Regions from separate parts of the Homo sapiens genome. Here all the other regions are reported to be linked to region 1. The links are microRNA targets in miRTarBase. Many come from high-throughput screens and were not tested one by one. Region 1 holds a microRNA gene; each other region holds the end of a gene's coding sequence.

Region 1 (3,259 bases):
TTAATGTACAATCCCTTTACAGGATCATTCTCCATATAGATAGACCTGTCAACAAACCTGTCCCAACAAAACTGGGTTGTAAAGCAGATCACAGAAAGGGGACTGGGTTTTCCCGTAGGAAAAATGGTAGTAACCTGGAGAAAGCATTCCAGATCCCCAGCTCATATCAACAAACCATGTATGTGATCAGCAGTGTGTTATAAAAACAAGGCTCAGCACCATCCGAGTTACACTGTTCCAAAGGGACCCTTATCTGTCCACTGTTCCCAAACCTTAGTCACTGGACAACTGCTCTTGAAAACTCTGCCCATATCATATCTGCATTCTACTTACTCTAAATAATTTTTCTTTAAATCAATTATATCAGTATGCTTAAAAGTTAAACCCATCCCATGGAACAGCACCCATAAATTCCTGACTTTTCTGTGCTAGTTGGTTTTCCATGTAAAAATGATGTGTTTTTAAAAACACATAGTTATTAAACTTTAAAATGTTTGCTGTGTATCACTGGCAGAGAGTTGTGCCATGATTTGGGAGACATCTAATTTCCTGCCACAAATGGGGACACTAAGACCCAGAGAGGGGAAGGGACCCGGGAAAGCCACATTGGGAGATCCTAGGCTTCCTGATTGTCCTGAGGCCAGACTGTCCCATTATTGGCATCCTTAATGACATCAAGGAAGACTGGTATTGGGAGCACAGCAAAGGTGCCCTCTGTCACCCTCTTGCCAGTTGCAGTTAACATTATTCATCTAAATAGGAACCACTGCATTTGCCCCCTTAGACATTAAAAGGGTTTCTGTAGGATGTTAGATAGGCAGTGTATTTTGTAAAAGCTGAAGTGGGAACTATTTTTTCTTGGCATGTATTTCCTTGTGCCAGGCGAGGGTAGTCAGGTTTGTCCCAAACTGGTAAGGACTAGAAGAAGCCAGCTGGACTTGGCGGGGAGTGGGGGTGCGGGGGGCAGGGGCAAGGGAAACAATGCATGGACAGGGTGGGACAATGGCTCTTGCACCCTGCAGGCCCTCTCACACAGGGCCTTAGCTGTGCGGGCCTTCTGCAGTTAATCCTCCTGTCTGGGCCCACTGCCCACAGCATCCTGGGCCCACCGCCAGGCAGACTCAGGGTAGCATGGCAGGGAGAAGTATCTGCTTCTTTAGCTCCAGGATCCTGGAGACCAGACAGGAGAGGGGCAACAACCATTGAAAAACAGCTGAAGGGGATTCTTTTCAACCACCATTCCACTAGGAGCCCCCTCTTTGCTCCCCTCCGCCCCCTCAAAGAGTCTGGGATAAAAGCGAGGTCTGTTAGAAAGCGCCCAATGAGCCCAGCAAAAGTTAAGCCAGTTGATGTCTTTCTTCCCAGAGCAAAATTTCTTGTGCCTTAAAAACATAAAGTTAGGTCAGATGAGACATGACTCAAAATAAACCACATACACTATAGAAATGGGGAAGAATGTGTCATTTTCTGAATCCCTTCTCCACTGACCCACTTTCCATCCCTCCACACAACTTCAGTAGGTTGATGGCTTCTACTGGTCCAGGCCCCTTGACCCCAGCTAGGGCCTCAGGGACCTTCGGGCCTTTTCCAAAATTTCCTCCCTGATCTTGGGGTAGTCGGGGTGCTCCCTGAGGACCTGGAACAGAGAGAGAATGGGTGTGCAGTATCATGCAGGTTTCCCCACCACTACACCAGGCCCTCCCCACCAAGGCTGCTGGCTTACATCGTTGCAGATTTCAATGGCCTCCACAAATTTCTTGTCCTTCAGGTAGTTGAAAGCAAGTTTGAAGCCTACCGGGGACATGGAGAGCAAAGATGGTGGCACCCTGGTGACCTGAGAACCCCTCTGGTTCTCATAACAGCCAGGGTACAGGCCTTGAGTTCTGGGGTCATGGTGGGGGCCCTCCTGCCCACCTCCCTCCCACGTCCATTCACGTGCACCCTGGCTGGTTGCCTTACCAATGGCAGGGTTGGCGTGATGACTGTACTTCCAGGCCAGTTTGTAGTTGGTGACTGCATCCTTGTAGGACTGCTCCTTCTCCATGATGAAGCCCATGTACTCATAGGCCTTGTAGCAGGACTGCAGGGAAAGCCAGTTAGAGCCTCTGCAGAGCGGAAGCCCCAACTGGTTCCCTGGGCCAGGGTGGGACTGGGACCAGAACCAGAAGCAGGCAAGGGACAGAAGTGAGCTGCCATAAACCAAACTGCCAAGGGACCCCAGGGGTACCCCAACCTTTGCAAGAAGCCAACTGTGTGCCCTCCTCTCAGCTACCCCAGACACTGGCGTAACCCCTTTCCCTGTAGCCCTCCTGTTCCGCCACTCCCATTCCTGGCCTGCTCTGACCTGCAAAAGTCCCTCCAGCTTGGAACCCATGAAGCTTTCCCATCTCTTTCTGTCCTTTAGTGTTCCCTCCTCTGGACATAACACGACCCCTGTGCACCTCCTCTCACCTGGTCCATCGCCCTTGATCCTCATTCCTATTCTGGTCTGTCGCCCATGTGCCCCTCTCAGCCTGCCTCTTCCCGACTAGTTCTTATTCCATATGGCCTCTACCTGCAAAGCCTGCTTCACCTTCCTGGAATGCCTAGAATCCTTTCCGCCATCCCGCAGCCCTAGTGTGTGTGTGGCTCCTTGCCTTGTTGTATTGCACACAGCGCCGCAGCAGTTCTAAGGCGAGGTCGAACTTGCTGCCCTGGCAGTAAATGTCAGCCAGCAGGAGCCAGCTCTTCTCCAGGTCCTCAGCCTCACTCAGCACCCAGGGGGTCTTGGCCAGGCGCTTCAACTGCATACGCGCCTTGGGGATCTGCTTCAGGAACACGTAGGCTTGTGCCAAGGCCAGCAGGGCAGGGACGCTGTCCTTCTACACACCAGGTAGGAAGTGGACGTCAGCACGTGTTGGCCGCCTGGTCTTCTCGGCCCTGCCACCTGCCCATGCCCGCCAGTCCCCACCAGCCACACCTCAGCCTGCGCTATCTGGATGAAGCTGCCCAGCGCAGCCTCCATGTTAGCCTTCTCCCTGGTGGCCAGCCGGCAGAGGCCCTGCAGCAGCCGCAGCTGGGTCTGGCTGGAGTCTGAATGTGGGTAAAACTCACGCAGCAGTTTCTCGGCGGTGCTCACACCCTGCTGCTCCAACTCCTTCTTCTCCATGTAGCTGCAGGTGTTAGACCTGGGTATCAGACACAGGCCGGTGGCCTGCCCGTGTGGCCCTCACCTGGCTTCAACCCAGAGGTTGCAGGCTTTCTGTAACTTCCCCAGGGT
Region 2 (3,259 bases), not on the chromosome of region 1:
TTGCCCAGGCTGGAGTGCAATGGTGTGATGTTGGCTCACTGCAACCTCCACCTCCCAGGTTCAAGCAATTCTCCTGCCTCAGCCTCCTGAGTAGCTGGGATTACAGGCACGTGCCATCACGCCAGGCTAATTTTGTATTTTTAGTAGAGACAGGGTTTCTCTATGTTGGTCAGGCTGGTCTTGCACTCCCGACCTCAGGTTATCTGTCTGCCTTGGCCTCCCAAAGTGTTGGGATTAGAGGCATGAACCACCACGCCCAGCCAAAGTTAAACTATTATTCTGTGTCAGAATCTGTATTAAATGTGACTTGTCAAGTTATTCAGTCTTTATCCTTAAATAAATGAGTTATCTGAATTCTCTCATGGTCAGTAGGTATTTAAATAGACATTGAGTTTTTTAAACCCAAAGCATTGTGGTCTAATGGGGCTAAAGGATTTGAGTTTAAACTTTGGCTTGAAGTTTCTTACCATGTCATTCTTCCAGAAACTATTCTTATAACTGAAATGATTTAATGTTTTCATGAAATAAAAGAATTGGTGAGGGGAAAATATTATCAATTTTCTTGTAATTGTGGCTAGTTTGGAGTAAACATAGGGAGATCAAAAATAAGCACCGTTCTGTCAATATAGCTGACAGCTACTCCTAGAGACAATAGACCTCGTGCTTCCCTTTGAGTTAATATATACAGGGCTGGGCGTGGTGGCTCATGCCTATAATCCCAGCACTTTGGGAGGCTGCGGCGGGCAAATCACGAGATCAGTAGATCGAGACCATCCTGGCTAACACGGTGAAACCCCGTATCTACTAAAAATACAAAAAAAGTAGCCAGGCGTGGTGGCGGGGCCTGTAGTCCCAGTTACTCGGGAGGCTAAGGCAGGAGAATGGCGTGAACCCAGGAGGCGGAACTTGCAGTGAGCCGAGATCGCACCACTGCACTCCAGCCTGAGCGACAGGGCGAGATTCTGTCTCAAAAAAAATAAATAAAAAATATATATATATATATATATATATATACACACACACACACAGGTAACTCTTATTGTGTGAATTCAGGAACTAAATACATTTTAATAGGAAGGAATTACTTGTAAAGACGTTGAATTAGGATCTTTTTGTAAAATGTAGTCCATTAATTCAACCATAATTTGAAATGGAGTTTCTTATGGTTTCCTTCATGTATCTATCTTCATATTTTTGTGTGGCTTCATTAGATAACATGAGCATGGCTTAGGAAACAAGAGTAGGATGTGATGTGTTTGATCAGTACGGCCATTCCCATCAGCCAGCATTTCCATTCAGGTCTGCTATAATTTATTCTAAATGTTGCTAATAGTAGGCTTTTGAATACCAGTGACGGTCTATTTACCAAGTTAGCACAACTGAAGCTTCTCTAGTTAGAGTGAAAATTGTTTCATATTAGCAACTATGGCTTACCTTCTTAGTCCTAGAAAAGATTCAGCCTTGCAGTTCCAATTTAAGTGAATTAGCTCCCAGATAGCTAATTTTCGACTTAAAGTAGTGTCACATTTTTCTTAGCATAAACCAGCCATGGGATAAAAATATAAAGTAGGGACATGTTTTACACATCCAATATCCCTCTCTACTTGTTTGAAGAAACTTTCCCCTTCCAAGATCAGTAGTGTCTTCCCGAGTATTTGAATCGTGAGTGAAACCATACAGGAACAGTAATAGGTAAAGCCAGATCTTTACAAAAGCTGAAAAGACAACTGTCCATTAATTCTTAGAACCTAGACGCCTGTAGCCCTGATTGTGGACCTTCTTAAAAATTCTTTCTTTTTTGCTTAAGGCTTGCCAGAGTTGAGTTGATTTGCAGCCAGAGAACCCTAACCGATAGACTTCCACATATAGAAAATAAAAGTGCATTTCTACATATAGAAAATAAAAGTGCATTATCTTAATGGTCATATCTATAATATAAAGTGATTAAACAATTCTTTCTTACAAATAAAGTTTATTGCTGAATTTCCCCATTAACATTATAGAAAACACTGAAATTTCACAAATTATTGAGAGCCCAACAGTTAAACATACTTTATTTAAAAAAGTACAAAAGTGACATTAGAAATTTTTTTGAAGAAATGTGTATCATCTAACAGAAAAGAAATATGAACCAGATAATGAATGGCACAAATATAGCACTAAAGGGGTACTCACTAAAGGGGTACTCAGTCACCACCCAGAAATTGTCCGAGTTATGAAATAGATTCATTTTGAGAAGTTACACAGTTTGTTTATGAACTAGCCTGTCTTGTTTCTGCCTCTTGTAAGAAAAGAGCTAGGTCTTTATGCTGCTAGGACAAAATACTGTACATGAATTGGAGAATAAGGAGGGGTCATCCTTCTCCCCGGTACCGGAACAAGAGAACAGTTAGTACAGAAATGGCTTTGGCACTTTAACCCTTAGACATTGTCCCAAACCTTGTTACTTGAGTATTGTAGCCTTACCATGATTTTTTTTAACACCGTATCATCTCCATACTTTTTATTTACAAATTATATATACACACAATAATACAATTCCTTCATTCTAAAACAATAGTAGACCCCAAACAGGTCTACATTAAGTTTCTGTATTAGCAGTTCACTCAGATAGCTTCGTTTGTTTGTTGTTGTTTCCACATAACCGCACTGATCATGCCATACAGTTAATTTTTATTTGTTTATGCTACCTTCTGAGATTGACTTAAGGCTCTAGTTTAATGCAAATGGTTTAGTCTTAAAAGGAGTCTCACGTGAGGCTAAAATCACACACCAATAACTCTCTCCTTTGAAGCTGTTTCTCCTTGTTGGATGGATGTAGTGTCTTGTCTGGGTAATCCATAGAGATATATGGAAACACATACAAGAAGAGTACCCAGGGCAAAGGTGAGTGCTGAAAAGAAAAAAAAAAATAGCTTTATCTGTATGTGTGTCTTTAAAATGCCTAATGATCAGTTTAAAATTTTGAAAACTCTTAATTGTGGGTTTACACTATCAGATCATATTTTTATGATGGCAAGGTTTAGAAAGGTCTTCCATTACAGCCAAAAAAAAGGAGAGGGGGAGGCAGGGCGGGTAAAATCAAGGCAGTGTTTTGTTGATCACTGATTACAGACTTTTTAGAACATGAGTATGCCTAACTGACACTATCTGACCACTCTGACAAAGAACATAACTAATTTCCCTATAAAATATATAATTTTTTTTAAATGTAAGTATAAATATATATAAGTACAAAAGAAAATGTGGTAGGATTGGC
Region 3 (3,259 bases), not on the chromosome of region 1:
AGAAAGTGAGTCCTTGGAGTAAATGGCACCGTGGCTCTGGCAGCAGATAGAAAGGAATGATGCTCTGGAGAGGAGGTAGGGACACTCTGCGGTCGGCCAGTGGATACATGAGGGGCCCGGCTGGAAGTGGGATCTGTAATTAGAGGGAGAAGTAAAGGTTTGATAGAGATCCTGAAAATAACTTGTAAAACCATTTTTCTTCCATCAACTGATATCAGCTTATAACATGTGGTCTATGTTCTACTAACCTAGAATTTTATCTACTAAAATATCTTGGTACCATTTGTCTAAATGAGTCTACAGCTCAATAGTCTACAAATCTAAGTCCTATATATTCAGATCTCTGACCAAGCACATCACCATGGAGCCACGCTGCCTTGACTGCTGTCTACTAGCTGTTTGTCCTTGGGCCAGCAACTTAAGTTCTCTCTGCCTCGGCTTCCTCATCTGAAAAACAGGGATAACAATATCTACCTCATAGGGTTGTTGTGATGATTAAAATTAAGCATTTAGAATAGTGCTGGCACAGATGTGCCAACAAACATTAGCTGTTTTTATTATCACTAGTTGTGATGGAATAATCATGTATTCCATTTTATATAAAGATGGCAATCTTAATCCAGAGAGAAAACACCAGTGCATGTAACAATAACAATGTGATAATAAAGATATATGCAAGATATTATAAAAATTAAGCTTAAAGAAAGGCATTTTTGTTTAAAGCTCCTTTTAAAAATAAAGGCCATCCTCATGTTTGTGTAGTCTTTTGTTAAGTCACTAATTCCCACATATTGCTTCAAATTGCAGACACCTTGCAGACTGAAGAAAAATGGAAGAATTGAATAAATTATGCTTAGAGTTTCCTCCCCTTCTCTAAGATCTCAGCTCACATTGCATCCTGGACCTTGGGAACACCCAAATCCCAAAACGAAATTGTGTTGAACAAAAATATCTGCATTCATGAAAGAGGGTATCCAGAAGTTATTAATGTAAATCTTTCCCATTTCAAAATTCTAGTTATTTGAATATTGATAGATTAGCCTCTGGTGTGTAATTGCTCAAACCTCACACATCAGAAAAACACATGATTACACAATAGCTGCAAAATGAGTCATGACAAATGGGCTGTGCCAAGTCATCGCAGCTGCAACTGATATACAAACCATGGCATGGAACAAAAGCCACACAGAAGGTTGCTGGTTGTTTGAGAAGTATCAGTTTGAAAATTGTACATGAGAAAGCGTATGGACAAGTAACACTAAGTATTCCAAAACAAAGCCTTTTTAAGGAAATACAACATATGGCAGAGGATAGATATCATGATTTAGATCTTTGGCTTTCAGGAATTCAGGTGACACATTCACTAGTGCTAAAGAAGGCAGCTCTGGAATGTTGCATGGCTTACAGGATTGAATAAATCATACAGGAGCAGACAAAATGTATTCTTTTTTAAAGTATTGAAAAAGAAGAGAAGGGGATAAACCTCTAGAATTATCTGATGAACTCTTCCCTTTCTCCATGTTCCTGCTGCTGCAAGTACTGAGAGGAAGTACGGTGTAAAAGACAGGGGTTTTATGATCAATCAGACTTGGGTTCATATCCCAATACTCGTTAACTGTGTGACTGTGAGAACATCATTTAATCTATTTGTATCCAAGTTTGCTCATCTATAAAATGGGGAAATACTTTGTAGGGTTCTTGTGAGATTCAGAAGTACCATTTGTACAATACCAGGCACATAGTACGTGCCCTCAAAATGGTAGCTGTTATTGATGTTGCCCTAGGAAGACATGTGTCTGCTTTGGTACATTCTGTGTCTGTGCTGTCTATTAATTAGTGACAGATACCTATAAGCACAGTCAACTAGAAAAGCGCAGCAGCAGAACACTTTCTGTAGGAAGACCACGTAACTAAAATTGGCAGAAATAGTGAAGTGCTACTTCCTGTCACTTAGAAGGCTATGCTAAAGTACTTAGGGCTTCAACGTGACTCTGCCTAGAGATTCTTAGTAGTATTAATTTGTTTCTTACTCATTAAAGGGCAGCATCTGGATATTTAAGGACATTAATACTTTAAACAAAGGAATGAAATTTATGTTTCTACTCAGTAGGTAAGGTTTCTTCCACAGGGGTCTGAAGCCACTTAAACATAATAAATGAAATATTCAGAATCTCCCCACTCCCCTCTGAAATGTTCCTTTGCTTATTAAAGCCATTTGTCATATAGGTAGACATCTCTGAACTCATTCTTATATGCAAAACCCAAGTATTTATATGTCTAGGATAGTTTTGAAATATTAAAACAAGCCAAGTAACTGCCATCCCCCATTCCCCCACCAAAGTAACAACAAAACCAGTCTGAACACAATACAGCAGGAAAAAAAATCAGAATTAAATTCTCTATCACCAAATAGAACTTGGGCCGAATACACATTTTAAATATCAAGCTAATACAGTGACTAGCTTAAGCTAACACAGCAAATATACTGTTATTTAACTGCGTGATTTAATGATTTATTTACCATGCGGGGAAGAATATTCATGCATCCTCTAAACTTGCAAAAGCTGCATACAAGCCATATCATTTCATATTTACCTTTAATTCTTCGGTTTATCTTCCACTGCTCATGCCTCTGTCTTCATAAATGGTAATTTCAATCTAAACAGCATGGCTGTTAAGAAAACACACTACAGGACACAACACACAAAGGGGGACTTGGCAAGGTGGAGGGTGTGATCTGCAGACTTTGCTTTCAGTTTGCTTTATTTTTCAATTATTAAACATTTTTCCTACTTAAGTTTGCTTTCTCCAATTTGCTGAAAATTTTAAGAAATGTAATTATAGTAGTCCACATGTAGTTCCTTCCCAAACACTGATAACTTATGTTTTGAAAACAAAACAAATAAATTCTGAAAACGATGCTTTATTTGTTGAACTAGGGAGTTCTTAACTGAGAATCCATGGAGGTAATGAATTCAGGGATTTAAAAATACCCTGAAATTATATGAAAACTTTTTTCTTGGGAAAGGGTTCATGACCCCTGAAAGTTTAAGAACTATTGTTGCAGAGTATAACAAAACTGCTGAAATTATTATCAGCTGGAAGGCCTGGGATTATGTGACCTAGGTTTTTAAAAAAATTTATTTACCCATTACTCCAGTTATCAAGCTAAATTAGTTTTTTGCAATTTTATTTACCAAATTCACTTAGTGATTTTCAAAGCTTACTGCCTCTAAAAATATGCACAGTATGTCAAAGG

The links. Region 1 holds the annotated microRNA hsa-miR-6822-3p (AGGCUCUAACUGGCUUUCCCUGCA, at 2,082-2,105, opposite strand). A microRNA usually pairs through its seed, bases 2 to 8, with sites in the 3' UTR of a target mRNA and lowers its output. Matches are read on the target gene's strand: a 7mer-m8 pairs with bases 2 to 8, a 7mer-A1 pairs with bases 2 to 7 and ends in A, and an 8mer does both.
Region 2: miRTarBase lists SLC35A1 as a target of hsa-miR-6822-3p. Seed matches in the 3' UTR shown: 7mer-m8 at 2,709-2,715.
Region 3: miRTarBase lists GOLGA7 as a target of hsa-miR-6822-3p. Seed matches in the 3' UTR shown: 7mer-A1 at 32-38.

The regions. Positions count from the first base shown.
Region 1 is chr3:39,137,088-39,140,346 of GRCh38, reverse strand. It overlaps MIR6822 (microRNA 6822), which reads right to left and starts at 2,141; the gene lies at 2,081-2,141. It overlaps TTC21A (tetratricopeptide repeat domain 21A), which reads right to left. Exons shown (of 29, transcript NM_001366900.1): 25 at 2,960-3,152; 26 at 2,637-2,861; 27 at 1,960-2,080; 28 at 1,724-1,791; 29 at 1,447-1,636. The coding sequence ends at 1,559. RefSeq lists an enhancer at 3,200-3,259.
Region 2 is chr6:87,511,033-87,514,291 of GRCh38, reverse strand. SLC35A1 (solute carrier family 35 member A1) reads right to left here. Exons shown (of 8, transcript NM_006416.5): 8 at 1,956-2,893. The coding sequence ends at 2,766. RARS2 (arginyl-tRNA synthetase 2, mitochondrial) reads left to right here. Exons shown (of 20, transcript NM_020320.5): 20 at 1-354. Among named protein-coding and RNA genes, the nearest start is that of SLC35A1, 40 kb to the right of the region's middle.
Region 3 is chr8:41,506,458-41,509,716 of GRCh38, reverse strand. It overlaps GOLGA7 (golgin A7), which reads right to left. Exons shown (of 5, transcript NM_001002296.2): 4 at 2,596-2,658; 5 at 1-133. The coding sequence ends at 2,611. Among named protein-coding and RNA genes, the nearest start is that of GOLGA7, 18 kb to the right of the region's middle.